2 separate regions of the Homo sapiens genome follow, and region 1 is linked to region 2. The links come from fine-mapping of genetic effects on gene expression. Tissue or cell type: hippocampus. Region 2 holds a variant in brackets; the other region holds the start of a gene. All regions are shown on one strand. Distances are from middle to middle.

Region 1 (2,684 bases), 270 kb after region 2:
GAGGAGGGTGACAGTGAACAGTGGAGCGATAAATCCGGCATTGGCGGTGAGATTAAATAGAAACTGCTGGCCGAAGGCAGAGAGGCGGTAATGCGCCTGGGAGGAGGTAGAGGAGGAAGAGGAGGAGGCGAAGGCAGGCCAGGGGTCAGTGGCAGAGTTAATGCTCCGTCGCGTTCTTTTGAAGTGGACGTTCGTGGGAAAGGGTTCTCCGAGAGCGTTCACTCGGATGGGAGACACGATTTCGTATTCGCTCAGGGTCTCTAATAATTTCACTGCGGAGAGAAGCAGAGGTATATGAACCAATAATTCATTTTTCCTTAAGCTTTAATTTAAAACGAAGGTGGGGACTTTGTTCTGACCTTATTTTCCAGCCCATTCGAGTCAATCCCTTCACCCTTAATCAGTGGACAAATATTTGCTGAGCACCTACTATGTGCCAGTAACAGGACCTGTGCTAGGTGCTGAGGATACACTATTCCGAGCCAGACAATTAACAAGTCAAAATATATATGATTTCAGATATTGATAAATAACCTGAATAAAATAAAACATGACGCTATCTGGTGCCCCCAATTACTAAGTTACTTTAGTTTGCGGCGTGGGAGTGGGGATGGGGATATATCTGGCAACAGCAAGGTAGGGGGGGGTTGCCTAAATTCGTTTCCATAGTGTCCCTCCCTAGCAATTGGTTGGGGATGACCCAAAGAAGGGAGAGGCTGCAAAGCGGGAGATAATTCTTTCTAGGAAAAGGAGAGAAGCCTCCGCTGCGGGGTGCCCCTGCCCAGGAGCGAGGACCGGGAGGCGGCGTCGGGGCCGGCGGGGTCCCGGGGGCCGGAGCCTGGTTACCTTGCCTCGGGTGCAGCCTGTCCTTGCGCACGGCCGCCGCGGCGTCTGGGCTCCCCATCTCGGCCAGGTCCCGCACCAGGAGCGTTAGCAGTGTGGCCCAGGATACAAACTGCATGGTGCTTCCCACCCCTCCCTCCGCTGCCCCCACCCCCCTCCCTCCTGCCCTCCTTGGCTGCGGCGGCGACGCGAGGCAGCGGCCGTGGAGAGCGCGCGGAGCCCGGCGCCCGCCGCCAACTTTTGACTTTAGGAGTCGCTGAGGTCTCGCTGCGAGGGTCCCGTCTGCGCTCGGCTGAGCAACGCCGCCGCCTGCCGAGAGCTGAGCCGCTCGGGCCGCAGGAGGAGCCGGAGGAGCAGGAGGAGGAGGAGGACTGGGGCTCGGCTGCTTGGCCGCATAATGCCCAGCGAGCGGGCAGGAGAAGGCGAGGAACTTGCGCTCCGAGGCGCGCCGGGCGCCCTGTGCTGGCCGGGATAGCTGAGCGGCTTCTTGAATGGGGGGCTGGGGGGGCGGAGGCGGGGGGGCCGCGGGTCCACAGCCTCTCAAATGCCCCCGGTGCACGCCTCTAAGAGGAGGAGAGGGGAGGAGAAAGCGAGACGAACGGGGACCGCCTCCTTCCAGACCATGTCCCCTCCTCGGCCGGCCCGTGCGGGACTCGCAGCCGGAGGCCCTGCCGGCTGCAAGAGGCGGAGGCCAGAGGCGTCACCAGCGCCGGGGCAGCTGTTCCTGGTCCCCGCCACCTCGCTGAAGTGGGGTTTTCTGAGATTCCCTGCCCCGGGGAGGGAAAGCAGGGAAAGTTCTCTCCCTTTCCTGGCGCGCGTGCAGCCACTTCCCCTCTCGTCTTTTTCCTCTCCTCTCCTCTCTCTCCTCCCTTCCGAGTCTCTTTTTCCTCCTCCCCCTTGTCTCTCTGCTGCTGTGCCTCTCGGACTCTGTCCCTTCTCCCCATTTTCCCCTGTGATGTCTGTCTTCTCCCCGCCCCACCGTGTCCCTGTCTGTTTCTCACATTTCTCCTTTTCCTTTCCTTTCTCTTCCGTCCCCATCTCTTGCCACCAGTCCCCATCTTTTGGTTTCTTACAAGTGAAAGTGGCCCAGCGCCGGAGCGCCTTCCCTTCCTACACTTTTTCATTCGGGAAGAGATTTGGCACCTGAGCTCCGCTCTCGATTTAATCACCCCAAGTCAAGAGTTTTAGAAATGGGGTTCTTAATCCTGCAGGTCGGAGTGTGTTTCTAATACGTGGTCTCTTGAAAATTTCGCAAAATATTTAAGCTGTGCTTTCCACCAACCTCTGTCACCATTCATGGAGGGTCCATAGCATTCTGTAGGTCCCCTGCCCCAAAAAAGGTTAAGAACAAATTTTGGCAGCAAGAAGGGGCGGGGACTCTGGCGCCCCTCACTACCAGGGGGTTTAGAGATGGGAGGGGAAGGGGGGATGGAGTGTAAAGTTGTAGATCCCTGTGGGAGGCACCAGTCCCTGGAGGGATTTCTCAATCACTTCCGCTTGCTTTCAGCCTGAGAGATGCTTGGAAAGACTGGGAAAGACTGAAAGCAGGCGCTTCAAGCTACACCTTCGTGTGTGTGTGTGTGTGTGTGTGTGTGTGTGTGTGTGTGAATTGTTCAATCTTGGGTGGTTCAGTGGCGCCTTTTCTTTAACCAGCCCTCAGGAAGATAGAATTTCAAGATAATTTCAAGAGGAAAGACATGACAATATCGTTAAAAATATATAAATATATGACTAATAAATATATATTTGCCCAAGTATCCTAGAACGGGGGTTGAGGTTCTGTTGCGTGGTAGGTTAGCACTCAGGACTAGAAATACCAAAGATTGCCAACACCAGGAACC
Region 2 (2,684 bases):
TTCGACCTGGGGAAAAATTTTCTTTTTGTATACTTATGATTTGTGTACTTTTACCTATGCATGTTGTATTTCAATACAAAATTTGTTAAAAGGATGTCCATGCTTGCACATCCCTTGGAAGAGTCTTCACTATATGTCATTGGGTCTCATACCCTAATCATATATTAATACTATGCCTTAAGGTACCACCTGCCCCCAATCTCAGCCCCTGCCTCTTCCAGCCTCCCATTCCTTCAGGTCCTTTCTTAGAGCTTGTCCTTAGGCTCCAACTTACGTCTCTCTCTTCCCATGACCCTTTATCTTGGCACCTCACCCCAGTTACAGAACCTGTGTTTCTCAACTTCTGCCCCTACCCTCTCTAATCTTTCATCCAGCTTGTCTTTCCCCAGCCTCAAACCCCGGATGTCCATGTACAGTCAGATGCCCCGGGTCCTGCCAGCCCTCCTTGTTCCCACCACCTCTTTCACCACAGGCACTATGCCCAGGCCCAGCTTTTCTACCTGGCTCAGGAATTCCCACTTCCTGCCCTTGGAGTTCAACCCTTTCTGCCTGAAACCATGGTCTTGCCTACTCTTAAACTTGTCTTTTTTTCCCTCTTACTATCCACTAGTTTCCTTTCTAAATTAAGCTCATCTTGATTTTTAAGGGCTAGTTTTAAAGAAAATGCTAAGTCAACAATCACTAATTTTGATAGCCAATGCTTGCTGAATGCTTATTACGTGTCACACACTGCTCTCAACACGGTTCGTGTATTGACTCACTCAGTCCTCCTAGCAACCCCCTAAGGAAGGTACTATTCCAATCCCTGCTTTGTAGATAAGGAAAGTGACACTGAGGCCTGGAGAGGTGAAACAACTTGCCCAAAAACACACAGGGGCTCAGGAGTAGATTTGGGCTAGAAACCTATGCAGTCTGAGCTCCGAGCCAGAGCTCCTAACAGAAGCACAACACAGAAGCTCCTCTCTGCAATAGGAAAGGTCCTTAGACATGGCCAGAGGCAAGGAGGGGGCCATGAGTGACTGGGCTTGGGAAGAAATGTTCTAAGCAATACAGTCTGGGAGGAAAAGATGGAGATGCCAGGCCTGGCCCCTTTCCAAATGGCACATAGTAGTTTTCTCTTGATGAGGAAGGTGTTCGCGGAGGGTTCTGGTGATGTCCTGGTTTTGCCTTCTCCCCTCTTTGAACACTGATTAGGAGGAGGATTGGCAAGAAAATGTTCACTATGCAGTGAAGAGAAGAGGAAGGGAATCCTTAGGGCATGCGTGTGTGTATTATGTGGTTGTTAGTAAACAGGAAGAATGGGTTGGTTATTGGAAAAGGTGGAAACACACGAATGTCCTTTGAGAAGCTCTGACTCACCTCTGGACATTCTCATTTTGACTGTACGAAAAGATTCAAAGAAATAGACGCTTCACAGAACACATGAGTAAGGAGGACAAATCTCCGACCAGAAAAATGCTTTTCTTTGTAAAAAGCAAAGTTTGATTTAAAAATAAAGACTACTCAGTAGTGTGGTTGAGAGAAGCCAAAACCTGCCTGTAATCCCAGCACTTTGGGAGGTCAAGGTGGGCAGATCACTTCAGCTCAGGAGTTCAAGACCAGTTTAGACAACATGGTGAAACCCC[G/A]TCTCCACTAAAAATACACAAATTAGCTGGGCATTGTAGTATGGAAGGCTGAGGTAGGAGGATGGATTGAGCCCGGAAGGTCAAGGCTGCAGTGAGCTGAGATAGCACCATTGCACTCCAGCCTGGGTGATAGAGTGAGACCCTGTCTCAAAAAAATAAAAATAATTTTTAAAAAAATCATGGAAAGCCAAGCGTGAAAAACAAATAATAACAAAAATAAAAAACATATATAAAAGAAAAGCCAAAACTATCCCAAAACCATCAGCTGTGTTCACAGACTTCTAAGGAGAGGCAACAAGAAAAATACCTGAGGCCACATCCTCCCACTCCCCACTCCCACCCCTGAACTCCTGTCAGCGTTCTTCATCTTTTCTGAACCTTAGATGCCTTTGGGCACCTGGTAAAGCCTGGAACACCTTCTCAAAGTAAAATGAGTGATTAAGATATATCAGATTATAGGGAAAATCAATTACATTAAAATATGTTTATTCAATTTTTTAAAAAATTTGATGTAGCAGAAGTCCTGGCTGGAGCAATCAGGGAAGAGAAAGAAATAAAAGGCATCCAAATGGGAAAAGAAGTCAAACTATCTGTCTTCACTGATGATGATTCTAAAATCCTAAAGACTCCATCAAAAGGCTCCTGGAACTGATAAATGATTTCAGTAAAGTTTCAGGATACAAAATCAAGGTACAAAAATCAGTAGCATTTCTACACAAATAACGTTCAAGCTGAGAGCCCAATCAAGAATACAATCCCGAACTCCCAGCCTGGCCAGCATGGTGAAACCCCATCTATACTAAAAATACAAAAAAAAAAAAAAAAAAAAAAAATTAGCCAGGCATGGTGGTGGGCACCTGTAATCCCAGCTACGTGGGAGGCTGAGGCAGGAGAATCACTTGAACCCAGGAGGCGGAGGTTGCAGTGAGCCGAGACTGTGCCATTGCACTCCAGCTTGGGCAACAAGAACAAAACTCTGTCTCAAAAACAAAAAAAAAAGAATGTAATCTCATTTACAATAGACACACACACACACACACACACACGCACACAAACACA

Evidence for each region. PIP is the estimated chance that this variant, and not a neighbour inherited with it, causes the effect.
Region 1: it holds the start of ADAMTS9, and the variant in region 2 is fine-mapped to the expression of ADAMTS9 in hippocampus (GTEx, PIP 0.99).

The regions. Positions count from the first base shown.
Region 1 is chr3:64,686,697-64,689,380 of GRCh38, forward strand. It overlaps ADAMTS9 (ADAM metallopeptidase with thrombospondin type 1 motif 9), which reads right to left and starts at 1,304. Exons shown (of 40, transcript NM_182920.2): 1 at 847-1,304; 2 at 1-272. The coding sequence starts at 961. The region is part of intron 1 of ADAMTS9-AS2 (ADAMTS9 antisense RNA 2); the gene reads left to right.
Region 2 is chr3:64,412,913-64,415,596 of GRCh38, forward strand. No RefSeq gene overlaps it. Among named protein-coding and RNA genes, the nearest start is that of PRICKLE2-DT, 31 kb to the right of the region's middle. The variant G/A (reference allele first, on the strand shown) is at 1,626.